Linked DNA regions of Homo sapiens. The protein of the gene in region 1 interacts with the protein of each later gene in a pairwise test. Each region holds a gene or a part of one and is shown on either strand. Other genes may lie near its edges.

The links.
Region 2: the proteins of MYOT (region 1) and ST7 interact in a two-hybrid assay, tested with the Homo sapiens proteins (one study listed by BioGRID).

What each region holds. Positions count from the first base shown.
Region 1 is NC_000005.10:137,862,984-137,870,859, reverse strand, and holds the start of MYOT (myotilin), read right to left. Parts: upstream 3,001-7,876; 5' UTR 2,907-3,000; intron 420-2,906; 5' UTR 209-419; coding exon 1-208. UniProt on the Homo sapiens protein: Component of a complex of multiple actin cross-linking proteins. Involved in the control of myofibril assembly and stability at the Z lines in muscle cells.
Region 2 is NC_000007.14:116,956,500-116,963,525, reverse strand, and holds part of ST7 (suppressor of tumorigenicity 7 protein), read right to left. Parts: exon of another isoform or gene 6,803-7,026; intron 4,374-6,802; exon of another isoform or gene 3,709-4,373; intron 1-3,708. UniProt on the Homo sapiens protein: May act as a tumor suppressor.

The DNA of each region.
Region 1 (7,876 bases):
GGAAAGCAGAGGAGGACATGGTGATGTGAGAGCTCAGTGTTGAGGAGGCAGAAAATCTTTGCTCTGTACACTGGCGGGGCTGGATGATAATGGAAGACTGTTTGGTCTGGCTAGAGAAGCTGGAGGTTTCTGGTCCAGGAGGCTGCAATCTGGAGCCACATGGGTTTTGGGACTGGATGAAGTGTTTTGGACGTTCGTAGTTAAACATGCTTAGTTGGTATATGGAAGATGAAGGCAAATTATTACTATAATGATTTGTTCCTGGAAGGGTGGGGCCCTGAATTTGGGGCCACAAGCCTGGAATTACGGAAGGTTGTAAGGAATCAGAAGCAACCTTGGTCTGCTCTTCCTTGTTGAGATCCTGAGAATACTGTGCTCCTGGCTTTGGTAGAGTGACCTTCTCTTGAAGAATATTGTTCCTTCAAAAGGAGAAAATAATTGTTACAATATTTGCTTAAACAATAACATTGTTTATTTGACATCTTTCAGATCTGATGTGCTTTTTCTTTTCCTTTCTTTCCTTCCTTCCTTTTGTGTGTGTGTGTGTGTGTGTGTGTGTGTGTGTGTGTGTCTTGCTTAATCGCCCAGGCGAACATAGCTCACTGTAGCCCCTCCAACTCCTGGGCACAAGCGATCCTTCCACTGCACCCTCCAGAGTAAGGACTACACATATAAGCCACCACGCCTGGCTAATTTTTCTTTTTTTCTTTCTTTCTTTTTTTTTTTTTTTTTTAGTAGAGACAGGGTTTCACTATGTTGCCTAGACTAGTCTTAAACTCTTAGCTGCAAGCAATCCTCCCGCCTCAGCCCCCCTTGGTGCTGGAGTTACAGGTATGAGCCCCCGCACCCAGCTGAGTGGATTGCTTTTTAACCTTACAATTCACTGCTTCTTTTTCTCTCCTTGATTCCAAATTGACCATATTACTAAACTAGATATTAATTAAGGAGTGACTGTGTGTATATGTTTGTGTAGAACATATGTTACAGGCTGCATTCCAGAGCCACTTATACATTTTTCTGTTTTTATTATGTATTTTTAAACAGAATCATACCTTATAATTCTGTTATTTTTAGATTATACTTCCTAGTTGTTGGTCTTGATGTTCTTTTAATTATCTAGAGTTTTACTTTTTATTATTTGTTTAGTATGTATTTTAGACTAATTTTGTTTTTTGGTCTTTTTTTTCTTTTTTTTGCCACACCTTTGGAGATCTCAGACTAATTTTGAAATTGCTTTAGCTCTTTTACTTTTTCTTTTCAAATGGCAAACAGGAAGCATAGAAGTAAATAAGACACATATGAAACTAGTCTATACCTTACCAAGAAAAGACAGGTGCCATTCCTCCTACTTAGCTCTGTAGTGGGCCTCCTGCCTTCCTACAGTACATCCTCATTTTTTCTCAGATGAAACATTTGCCATGAAAATCAACCTTGAAGGATTATATTTGTCTCTGATTTTTTTTCCATTAGTATGGTAAACCTAAGCGGGACTATATATAGACATTACACACAAAGACTAGTCCTATAAATTGTTTTCACACTAATCCTGTTTTCATTGAAAATATCAGATAAATTGATTCAAAATACATTTGCCTATTTTGTTTCATCTGGTATAAGCCAATACTGAGATAATGACAAATCAAACTTTTAACTGAAAAATTAACCAAATTGTTTGTCATCATTGAAACGAAGTCTTCTAATTATTTTAGTTACTGTCTTGGATAAAATGTTAATAAAACTTTTCCAGACCAAAGAGTTTCATCCTAAATAATAGGATACCTTCAAAAAATAGTATTTCAAAGTTGCCTATGTAGTTTAGAGTTAAATTAAAACTAGCAATTTTAGGAAAAAACAGAAATGCAACTAAACAGCCAAGAGAAAGACGCTATTGAGAAAGAATACTTAAAAAGTTAAATATTCCTTAATTTCAAGTTTATGAACACAAATACATTAAACTAGAATGCATTTTAGAAATGAACTACTTTAGGCATTTAAATTGTTGGGGAAAAACATCCTGAAGGAGGGCCTTGAGTAGATCTAAAAAAAAAGTCTATTTCAAGGCAAGTAGTTTTGTAGTTATCGGTTTATTCAGTCTGTTGCAGAATTGAATCCAGAGTTTGATTCCTAAATTTCTTTCTGGGCAGGTACATTATTGAGACTCATTTCAGATAGCAAGGAATAAACCGCTTATGAAATAGTAGATATTTTCCAGAAACAGTTCTCTTTTTTTCTTTACATATATTTTCAGAATGGCAACTGTCTTGTACATGTTGATATTGGCCTACATTGTTAATAATTAGTGATATTTTTAAAAGCCCAATTAAAAATATGTTATTTCATAAGTTTCATTTTATCCATGTGTCAAAATTTTATGCAGACATTTACGCAGGTGATCCTGTATTTTCTTTATGTTTGTAGTTACTGTTCAACAATTTAATTCTATAATAGATTCTGTTATATGACAGGGTCATTTTATTCCAAATAATGTTAAATGAATTTCAAAGATTTTTATAAATAAAGTACTATTCAGTCTCCTTTTTAAAAAATCTTAACATTTTTTTCCTGTCTCTAATATAGCATAGACTTGCACAGAAGACTGATAGAGGATATGTTGCGTTCATAAGACATCACCACAATTACATCAGATCAAGTGTCCCTTTTCAAGGAAAAATGGTGATTTAAAAATAATGACACACAGCTATCTTTCCTTCTATCATTTGTATAATGCCTTCCAGTCTCAATGAAATGAATGAGTCGCTTTCTCTTTAAATTTTTGTGTAATACCATTATAATGTTGTGGCTTTCAAACTTTTTATCTGAAAATCATCTTTGTATACACTCATCTGATTTGGACAAAAAACAAAAACAAGACCTAAAAGTGTAGTAGGAATAAAGAAGGGACTTACCCGTAGTTCCAGAGGGTGCCAGCTGGGTTTAACCCACTATTGAAGGGAAGGAAGAGGCATCTCCTTCCCTCACAGACTAATCTAGTGGCTCTGTGCTTAGTATTATAGCACCACTGACTTTTATCAGCTGCCAAACAGTGACATCTGATGTGCTTGCCTGTCCATCTACCTATGCTGGCATGTCAAAGTAAGAGTCCACAATCTAAACAATATCTCACGTGTCTTAGTGGTATTTAAGGAGTGGGATTACATGAGCTTCTTTTGCAAGCCTCTTTATTTCAGACGTGAATTTTGACTATGAACTTTAGCAAGCTCATGTGAGGGAAGGGCAGTGAATAGGGAAATGGGAAAAATAGAAAAAAAACCCTCTTATTTCTTTATTATGGTGGGGACTTTGAATTTTCCCAGTTTAAGAGAGAGGACTAAAGGGAAAATAATATTTCAAGAGTGGAGTTCTTCTATCTATTATACTAAGACTTCTCCAGGAATAAGACCAGTGATAGATGGGCTCCCAATTGATTTGTATTGCATAATTCTTCATCTGAAGTCTTTTTTCTTTTGCCTAATGAGAGTAGGATTCAATAATAGATTTGAGGTCTCTCAGTACTAGCAGTTTGTTCCGAGGTGGAGGGCAGTCTGGGCAAAGCAGGAGACCGAGGTCATAGTGACATGTCACTGGGAAGGTAGGGAGGTGGAAAAACATGATGGTGTTTCTTGAGCAAGTTTTCTGAATCTGTATGGCATATGCCCCTTTTGCCTAGTACTTTTATTCTGAAAGAGTTTTGAAACACTTAAGAAACAACCAAACAAATAAGCAATCTATATAATTAGAGCTGTCAATGCATGTTCATCTCCCTTTATTCCTAACAGTTAGTTTCCTTTCACTTTTTGTCACAGAGACCATCATGGTATTTAGATTTCCATTTTTGTGCAGGGAAGTAAATAATTGCAGAAGAATAAAATGTCGAATCAGCAAATGTGGTGAAGTAGGGTAGGTGGCATGAGGATTGGGCCAAGGGAGTAGAATTATCTCCATGGGGTGGCTTCAGTTCCCCTCCCTCATGGGTAGATACCCCAATCTTGATTGAATTAACATGTATATTAGAATCCAGCAAATAGATGTTTGAGCACATATGAGCCATATAAAATCCTTCACAGCTGGCCAAGTAGGTGTACCTTTCTTTGGTGTTCAAAGAAAGCTTGATAATTTCTGCCTGGGCGTGCAGCCCTTAGTAGAAAAAGCATGCTAGACTTGGTGAGTAGGTGGTTGCCTACAAAGTCTTATTTCAGGAGTCTCCCAAAATATTCTTCAACATCTGTTCACTGATATTTCAAATTCCAGTAATACAGACAAAACCTTTCCATCTAAATTAGAGAGACTTAAAATACAAATGCAAGTGATAGGATAAAAGTAATAATAGCCAATATATAGCATTTATTATGAGTAAGACACTCCTTCAAGCATTTTATTTTATTATTAGTTTTTTTTTAGAGACAGGGTCTTACTCTGTCACCCAGGCTGGAGTGCAGTGATATGATCAGAACTCACTGCAGCCTCAAACTCCTGGGCTCAAGAGATCCTTCCTCTGCAGACTTTCAAGTAGCTAGGGCTATAGGCATGCAGCACTATACCCAGCTAATTTTAAAATTTTTTGGACAGACAGAGTTTCGCTATGTTGCCCAAGCTGGTCTCAAACTCCTTGCCTCAAGCGATCCTCCACGTCGGCTTCTCAAAGCACTGGAATTATAGGCATAAACCACATGCCCAGCCTATCTATTCTAAGCAATTTTAAATGTGGTATATGTGACTGACATTTGGTTCTGCTGGAGAACAGGGTTTGATTAGGGCATGGAAAAGGAAATAATAGATTTGAGGTCTCTCTGCACTAAAAGTTTGAGGTATACCTCACCAGCCAAGTAGGGAAGACATCCAGGACAACCTGCTAAATTCCCAATTTTGCCTACAGCAGGTTCTAAGCATACTACACTCGAGGAAGAATTTAGTTCTGCTTACTCTTTGTCTTTCAAGCTTTGCCTCTTCTCTAGGTCTTTGTAAGATACAACCCAGGTTACCGTGTGTTACATGTGATAGCCTTCATGGTACGTCAAGGCTAAAGTTTTTGCTATAATGGGATCAAGGGATGATTTAGGAAAGGTAAGTAGGTCCTCTTTTATGATACCATTCTCAGTAGTCAGGGGCTATATTAATAATCTACTGTAAATCTGTTTGTTCCTGCCTTTTAATGTTTGATTTGCTTTTTTGAATGGTGGTTTGTTTCCTCACAAATATAGCTATTTGAATGGTTTAATTGCCTATTTGAGAAAAATCATAGACTCTTAAGACTGGAATTATTACAATGCCAGATGGGTGAACTTTTACTACAACCTGCTCACAAAGACAACCTTTTCCATTTCTTTTTCTAAATTATCAGTAAGGGCCTTCAGTAAATTATTCAAATGCCTTACAAAATATAGTAACTTCCTACTATCTCACTGAAACCTTTCCTGTTACATGTTAAGGGATTCCTTGTCTATCGTCAGTTTCAGAAACAGGGTAGCTATTTAACTGTCTCTCATTCTTCCCTCTTCATATATAGCTCTTGTCTTTCAAAAATATAAGATATATATGCCATTGTAAAAAAAAAATGGTGCTGTGAACTTCTTTTAAATTCGGAGGTCAGATGTGTGTGATGAAACTCATTTCTGCTATATCAACTGAAAAGGAAAACGTCACATTGAGGATGGAAGAACTAAGGAGTGAAGAAAGTTTTATTTTAGTTCACACAAATTCACTGTGGTTATTAAAGTTCTGCATAGATATATAATGAAAGGGAATCCCATTGTAGCATTTGTAATTTGAAATATCCAGTCTAACATTTGACTCAATCTTATATTATTCTCAAGCAAGAAATAATAATGGAATCCATCGGGTTTGGAGTTAAAGAATACAAATGATAACATTAATTTGGCTAATGCTCTACAACTTTCTAGACATATTTACCTTTTGTTATCTGTTTTTGGAGACCTGAGTGTGAGGGCCCACTCCACCACATACATGCTGTGTAGCCTTAAACAAGTTGCTTAAACTTTGAGCTTTAATAACTAATCGAAAAATGAGGCTAGGCATGTTGGCGCATTTCTGTAGTCCCAGCTACATGGGAGGCTGAGGTGGGAAAATCGCTTGAGCCCAGGATTTTGAGGCTGCAGTGAACCATGATCACACCACTGCACTCCAGCCTGGGTGACACAGCAAGACTTGTAACCCAGACTCACAAAAAAAAAAAAAAAAAGAGTAGTACAAGGTTTACCAACCTAAATCAGACGATTGATGAGAGACTCAAGTGAAATGGGAAGTCATATAATGGACATTCTGTAGGTTTATCTCCTTAACTAGATTAAAATGTTTCTGAGAGAGGGACTGTTTACTACTTATTTATCTTGGCCTAACGCAGTGTGGCTCATAGTAGACACTCAATAAAAACTTGTTAACTTTTATGGAATATTTACCCAATAGTTTTCTCCATAGGTGATTTTACTAATGAAGATGGTCATGTGTTATGAAAGATACTAACTTATAAATTCAAGGTCTTTTAAAGTTTTATTTATTTGCTTATTTTTGTTTTTGAGATGGGGTCCCACTTGGACTCCCAGGTTGAAGTGCAGTGGCATGATTCATATCTGTTGCAGCCTCAAACTCCTATGCTCAAGTGATCCTCCTGCCACAGCGTCCCGAAGTGTTGGAATTACATGTGTGAGCAACCGTGCCTTTTAAAGCTTTAAAGGCTCACTTTTTTTTTCTTTCTTTTTTTTTTTTTTTTAAAGACAGGGTCTTGCTCTGCCTTCCAGGCTGGAGTGCAGTGGTGAGATCACAGCTCACTTACAGCCCTGACCTCCCCAGCTCAAGCCATCCTCCCACTTCAGCATCCCAAGTAGCTGAGACTACAGACATGAGCCACCACACCCAGCTAATTTTTGCATATTTTTGTAGAGATGGGGTCTCACTATGTTGCCCAGGCTGGTCTAGAACTTCTGGGCTCAAGCAATCCGCCCACCTCAGGCTCCCAAAGTGCTGGGATTATGGGTGTAAGCCACTGTGCCTGACCTAGGCTCACTATTTGTGTGTGTGTGTGTGTGTGTGTGTGTGTGTGTTTGAGACAGTGTCTTGCTCTGTTGCCCAGGTTGGAGTGCAGTGGCGCAATCTCAGCTCACTGCAACCTCCGCCTCCCGGGTTCAAGTGATTCTCCTGCCTCAGCCTCCTGAATAGCTGGGATTACAGGCGTGTGCCATGACACTTGGCTCGGCTAATTTTCGTATTTTTAGTACAGACGGGGTTTCACCATGTTGGTCAGGCTGTTCTCAAACTTCTGACCTCATGATCCTCCCGCCTAGCCTCCCAAAGGCTCACTATTAAACACAGGTACTTAGAAAAAATTTAGATAATCAGTATTGGCCATCTTCCCAAGGCAAGCCCAGCACGCTCTGTCACCCAGGCTGGAGTGCAGTAGTCTGATCTTGGCTCCTTGCAACCTCTGCCTCTTGGGTTCAAGCGATTCTCATGCCTCAGCCTCCCAAGTAGCTGGGATTACAGGCATGTGCCACCATGCCCGGATAATTTTTGTATTTTTAGTAGAGATGGTGTTTCACCATGTTGGTCAGGCTGGTCTTGAACTCCTGACCTCAGGTGATCTGCCCGCCTTGGCCCCCCAAAGTGCTGGGATTACAGGCATGAGCCACCACACCAAGCCCCTAGGTTATTTTTTAAACAATATTTTGATTTGAGGTTTGTGTTGGGGGGTGGAGAAGTAGCAAATGGTGATGGATTGTGTTGTTTTAAACATAACCTGGTAGGAAAATTCACTTAACTGAATTATCTTTACATTTGTAGGTTTGTTTTCCAAACACAAGGACATTTCTGTTTTTATTCTAAGGTCTGTTTTTCTTCATGGATAAAGAAGAAACCTGTATCACAA
Region 2 (7,026 bases), on another chromosome or scaffold:
TACTTTGCTGAGAGATTTGGTAACTGCAATTAAACAGTGATACCACAGCCACAGCAACATAAAATACTGCTACAGCTAACTAACTGGGCCTGTCAGTTCCTTATTTTAGCACAGTAGGTAGTATAGGAATGCCTGCTAGTTTTAAATGATGGGTAATGGTAACACATCAGCAACTGTCTTGCCCCACTGTAACAAGAAAAATGAGTTTCATTACAAGTTCTCTCTTCTGGAAAATCCAAAGCCCTTTACAGATATCTTTACAACAACATCTCAAATACAATAATGATGTTGAGAGATATTATTCCACATTTACAACAAACAGACAGTAGTGTGGTTTCAAACAATCCAATAACCCATTATCTTGCTTGGTGCAGTTTTAGAAAGAATATCGAGGATAAAAAAGATTCTATTATATAGTTTAATGTGTCATTTCACTGTGAGAGCCAAGCCTATAGAATATAGAATATAGCCTTCTGAGGAAAAGACCTACTATAATGCCTCAGATTTAAATAGTATTTTACAGCCTACAAAGCACTTATTCATTTTACAGTCTCATATGAAGATTGCATTCTAGTCAAGGGACCAAGTCTATCATCAAGCTGTAAGGCCAAAGTCAGTAACTATCTCAACCACACAAATATTCATAGAATGCCCAGACATCCAAATAGGAAGAGAGAAAGTCAACTACCCCTGTTTGCAGACGACATGATCCTATATCTAGAAAACCCCAGAGTCACATAATTAAAGAGCTTCTGCACAGCAAAAGAAACTATCATCAGAGTGAACAGGCAACCTACAGAATGGGAGAAAATGTTTGCAATCTACCCATCTGCCCAAGTCTAATATCCAGAATCTACAAGGAACTTAAACAAATTTACAAGAAAAAATCAAACAGCCCCATTAAAAAGTAGGCAAAGGATATGAACAGACACTTCTCAAAAGAAGACATTTATGTGGCCAACAAACATAGAAAAAAGCTCACCATCACTGATCATTACAGAAATGCAAATCAAAACCACAATGAGATACCATCTCACACCAGTCAGAATGGTGATTATTAAAACGTCAGGAAACCATAGATGCTGGTGAGGCTGTGAAGAAACAGGAACGCCTTTACACTGTTGGTGGGATGTAAATTAGTTCAACCTTTGTGGAAGACAGTGTGGCGATTCCTCAAGGATCTAGAACTAGAAATAATACCATTTAACCAAGCAATCCCATTACTAGGTATATACCCAAAGAATATAAGTCATCCTACTATAAAGACACATGTACACATATGTTTATTGCAGCACCATGTACAATAGCAAAGACATGGAACCAACCCAAATGCCCATCAATGATAGACTGGATAAAGAAAATGTGGTACACGTACACCATGGAATACTATACAGTCATAAAAAAGGAATGAGATCATCTCCTTTGCAGGGACATGGATGAAGCTGTAAGCCACCATCCTCAGCAAACTAACACAGGAACAGAAAACCAAACACTGCATGTTCTCACTCATAAGTCAGAGTTGAACAATGAGAACACATGGACACAGGGAGAGGAACACCACACACCAGGGCCAGTCAGGGGGTGGGGGGGTGAGGGGAGGGAGAACATTAGAAGAAATAGCTAATGCATGCAGGGGTTAAAACCTAGATGACGGGTTGATAGGTGCAGCAAACCACCATGGCACACGTATACCTACATAACAAACCTACACATTCTGCACTTGTATCCCAGAACTTAAAGTAAAATTAAAAAAAAAAAAGAAAGAAAACCCCATAGTCTCAGCCCAAAAGCTCCTTAAGCTAATAAACAACTTTAGCAAAGTCTCAGGATATAAAATCAATGTGCAAAAATCACTAACATTCCTATACACCAACAACAGTCAGGCCAAGAGCCAAACCAGGAATGCAGACCTATTCACAATTGCCCCCCACCACACACACACACACACACACACACACACACACACACACGTAGGAATACAGCTAACCATGGAGGTGAAGGATCACTACACGAAGAACTATAAAACACTGCTCAAAGAGATCAGAGATGACACAAGCAAATGGAAAAACATCCCATGCTCACGGATAGGAAGAATCAATATCATTAAAATGCCCATACTGCCCAAAGCAATTTACAATTTCAATGATATTCCTATTAAACTACCACTGACATTCATCACAGAATTAGAAAAAACTGTTTCAAAATTCATATGGAACCAAAAAATAGCCCAAATAGCCAAAGCAATCCTAAGCAAAAGAACAAAGCTGGAGGCATCATGCTACTCGCTACTCATCTTCAAACTACACTACAGGGCTACAGTAACCAAAACAGCATGATACTGGTACAAAAACAGACACATAGACCAATGGAACAGAACAGAGAACCCAGAAATAATGCTGCACACCTACAACTATCTGATCTTCGACAAATCTGACAAAACAAGCAATGGGAGAAGGATTGCCTATTCAATAAATGGTGCTGGGATATCTGGCTAGCCATATGCAAAAGATTGAAAGTGGACCCCTTCTTTACACCATATACAACTGAAGATGGATTAGAGACTTAAATGTAAAACCAAAAACTATAAAAACCCTGCAACACAACCTACATAATACCATTCAGGACACAGGAATGGGCAAAGATTTCATGATGAAGACACCAAAAGCAACTACAATAAAAGCAAAAATTGACAAATAAAATCTAAACTAAAGAGCCTCTGCACAGCAACAGAAACTATCAACAGAGTCAACAGAAAACCTACAGAATGGAGACAATTTTTGGAAACTTTGCATCTGACAAAGATCTAATATCCAGCATCAATAAGGAACTTAAACAAATGTACAAGTTAAGTACCTCATATTATCTGTATGAATGGAGTTCAGGGTTCTACCAATGTGGAAAAAAATTGTCTGTGAGCAATGACACAGTAGTACAAGAAAGATTTGGTTGGGAAATTTTTCAGAATAATATTGGCAGGCAAAATGAAACTTAACAGAATTGTAACTCGAAGTGATTAGAAATACTTCAGCACAATTTTATGTGTCTGCAGTGGCTCACGCCTAGAATTCCAGCACTCTGGGAGGCCGAGGGGGACAGATCACTAGAGGCCTGAAGTTTGAGACCAGTCTGGACAAGATGGCGAACTCTGTCTCTACTAAAAATACAAAACTTAGCCGGACATGATGGCATGCACCTGTAATCCCAGCTACTTGGGAGGGTGAGGCATGAGAATCACCTGAACCCAGGAGGCAGAGGTTGCAGTCAGCTGAGATCCCGTCCCTGCACTCCAGCCTGGGCAACAGAGCGAGACTCTGTCTTAAAAACAAAAAAACAAAACAAAAAAAAAAGAATCCCAGCGTATTTGGAGGGTGGTGATCTAGAAAAAGAGAGGTGGAAGTTCAGATTTGAGGGGTAAGAAAGAGCCATAGCATCAAACTTTGTAAATGAAGGTAATACACTTAGATTGTATTTTCAATGCAATGGAAGCCACTGCAGGAAGTCATACAAAATCTGGACTTGTATTCACTAAGTATTAAGAGTCCAAACTGTAAAAAACATGTATACTCATTAAGTCCATGTATTATCTTGGTGCTACACTTTGCACTCAATGAAATTCATCGTAAGACACAGAATCCCAGAGCTAGAAGGAAACTTAATGAATGTAAAGCCATTATTTTACATATACAAAAACTCAAGCTCAGAGAAAAATGCATCATTCGGATTGCTTTATTAATGGCTGAGAAAAATATCTCCAAAAATAATTAAGGGCAACTAAGATGTCTGGGATACATTCTAAACTCAAAGCTGACATTAATCAAAAAATTGTCCTTTTATATATTCATAAACTGAACCACCATGCTTTAGATGCATATGGCCCATCATAGAATATATAAGATCTTGTAACAGCCTCTGACCACAATCTAAAGCTGCAAACTTAGATGGGGCACATACTCAGTAATGCATTTGATCAATTGTATTGTTCCAATCCCAGCTCACTAAATACACCGTAACTTGGATATTCATTCATCCAGTGAATGATAAGGACCTACTTTGTACAAGGAATTAACACTGGAAGATGAAGAACTAGAATCTAGAAGAAGTAATAAAACATACATATACAAAAAAAGATGCATATATACACAAACACTGACCCACATATATCACACACATATACCATAATTCATATAAGATAAAGTAACTGCAGGCATGCCATAAACAGCAAAATAACTAGAATTAGAACTGAAGCTTTAAGATGTGACTGAATTGTTGTAATTCCTTGTAAAACTTGAACGGATAAAGAGCTGTTTCTTTTGATGAGCAAAGAAAGTGTTTTGAGATAGAATCTACTCCTGGTGAAGATGCTGTGAACATTGCTGAAATGACAACAAAGGATTTAGAATATTACATAAACTTCATTGATAAAGCCGTGGCAGGGTGATAAAATTGACTCCAATTCTGAAAGTCCTACTGTGGGTAAAATGCTATCAGACAGCATCACATGATACAGAGAAATCTTTCTCTGGAAAGGAAAACCAATCCATGTGGCAAACTTTACGGTTGTCTTATTTGAAGAAATTGCCACAGCTACCCCAACCTTTAACAACCAGCACCCTGATCAGTCAGCAGCCATAAACATCAAGGCAAGACTCTCTACCAGCAAAAAGATTATGACTTCCTGAGGCTCAGATAGCATTTTTTTTTTTAGCAATAAAGGATTTTTAAATTAAGGTATATACATTGGTCTTTTAGATATAATGCTACTGCACTCTTAATATAATACAATATAGTGTGACTATAACTTTTATATGCACTGGGAAACCAAAAATTTCATGGGACTCACTTTATTGCAGTGGCCGGGAACCAAACTTGCAATATCTCCAAGGTAAGCCTGTCTTTTCTGCAGCTGAAAGGATCAGAAGGCAGCATGCCAGCTGGTCCTTGATAGATGGGTGGGATTTACAGATAGGGAAGAACATTTTAGACAACAGGCACAACAGGGGCAAAAGACCTATGTAAACTGCAACCAGACCCTCTAGAAGGGAAATCCAATTTTATGTAAATTTTAAGTAAATTAAAATCTAAATGTTAAGTAAATTTAGAGCAAAAATTCTCAACATGAAAAAATGCCAAAACTGAGCTGCAGCCTAAGTTCTATATCACGTCAACAATATAAGAGTTTTACATCTGTATTCATGAGCTTAATTAACACAAAAAAAAGTCTTCTAAATAACTTGACCAGGCACGGTGGCTCACACCTGGAATCCCAGCACTTTGGGAGGTGGAGGCAGTAGGACTGCTTGAGCCCAGGAGTTCAAGAACACAGGGGACCCTGTCTCTACAAAAAAAAAAAAAAAAAAAAAAAATTAGCCACGCACTGTGGTGTGCACCTGTAGTCTCAGCTACTAAGACTGAGGTGGCAGGCTGAGACAGGAGGATTGCTTGAGCCTGCAGGTTGAGGCTGCAGTGAGCTGTGACTGCACCACTGCACTCCAGCCTGGGTGACAGAGTGAAACCTTGTCTCAAACATAAGTAAATAAATAACTTTAAGCCTAGATCAGGCTATTACATTTGTTTTCCAAAAGGAATGAAAACGGATTTCAAAGATCTTTGAAAACTTGCTTTTCAGCAAATAGAAAAAGAATTGGAAAATCACTTATGCTGCTTTTTGCAAAAACAGCAAAGTTGCCCGTTTTAGGAAAAGGTGTTTAAATTCAGCAGCAAAAAACTTTATAACATAGGGTAGATGAGAAAGTGCCATCAACACCACTGTATAAGTTATGGTACTATTTTTTAAGACTCACCTATTTTAATAATATCCTGCATGACTGTGCCAATCTACAATTAATTTTCTGCCCTTTGGAAAAGTATTGCTTTATGATATTAATTCACTTGAAAACTGACAAGTAATATTATTTGGGGTCTTTTAAAAACCTTGTTAAAATTTCATTCTATTTTCAGTAAATCATAAAACTATTTTAACACTATTGTATCCAAATCAAGAGCAGAGCCTCAAAAATCAGTTACCAGCAGCTGGGCATGGTGGCACACACCTGTAGTACTCGCTACTAGGGAGGCTGAGGTGGGAGGATCCCTTAAGCCCAGGAGTTCAAGCCCAACCTAGGTAACATACTAAGACTCTCTTAAAAAACAAACAAAAAAAAAAACTATTATCAAAGCTAGCCACTATGTACTATTCCTATTATGTTCGTTTTCTCCCCTTTCTTTTTTAAAATTCATTTTCATTACAAGATGTGATTGCCAATGTTAAGGTTTCTCTGTATGGTCTAAGAGAATACTGTGGAATTCTTTGAACTATATCCCTACCCTAAATGGCACTGGCTCAATGCAACGAAGGTCACACGAGCCAAGCTGGTGGGAGTAGGGAAGTAGTATACCTCAAAAACAGCATTCAAAGCATTTTTACTTGGAAAACTACACGATGTAAGAGCTAAAAACGGTATGGTTGTTCATCAAAGTCCTTTTCTTTTATTATTTTAAATTAAATTCCACGATTAGCTCTTCTCTGAATCTGACCTGCACTTTCACAACTTTGTCCCTTTGTTTGGGAGGTCCACCTCTGAGTCCTCAATCATGGAATTCTCCTCATCCTCTTAGGCTCAATTCAAGAGAAGCTCTCACAGCCTTGCCCAGCCCCATCTTGCATATGGGAAGTTGTATTCTTGTAGTAAACTCCTTATTTACCCTGGGTTTTACAAACTCATTCATCTTTCTTATCATAGCACCTGTTATAGTACATTAGGAGGCATCTAAATTAAAAAAAAATCGAGTTAAGCTCATTTACCATAAAATATGATCAAATGAGGATTAAAATTGTCACAGATGGTCAAGATATTGAGAAGATACCAAGCAGATATCCAAGAATGACTCCAGAACACTTTTAGCAGATTCCATCCCCCTACAGGTACAGAGCTGGGCCTATGGAAGCCCTGGCTCCTGGCTGCCTGATTGTGATGGTGTCTTTGGCTTCCTTGAGGAGGAAGGGAGGCCTGCGCCATCTGCAACTCC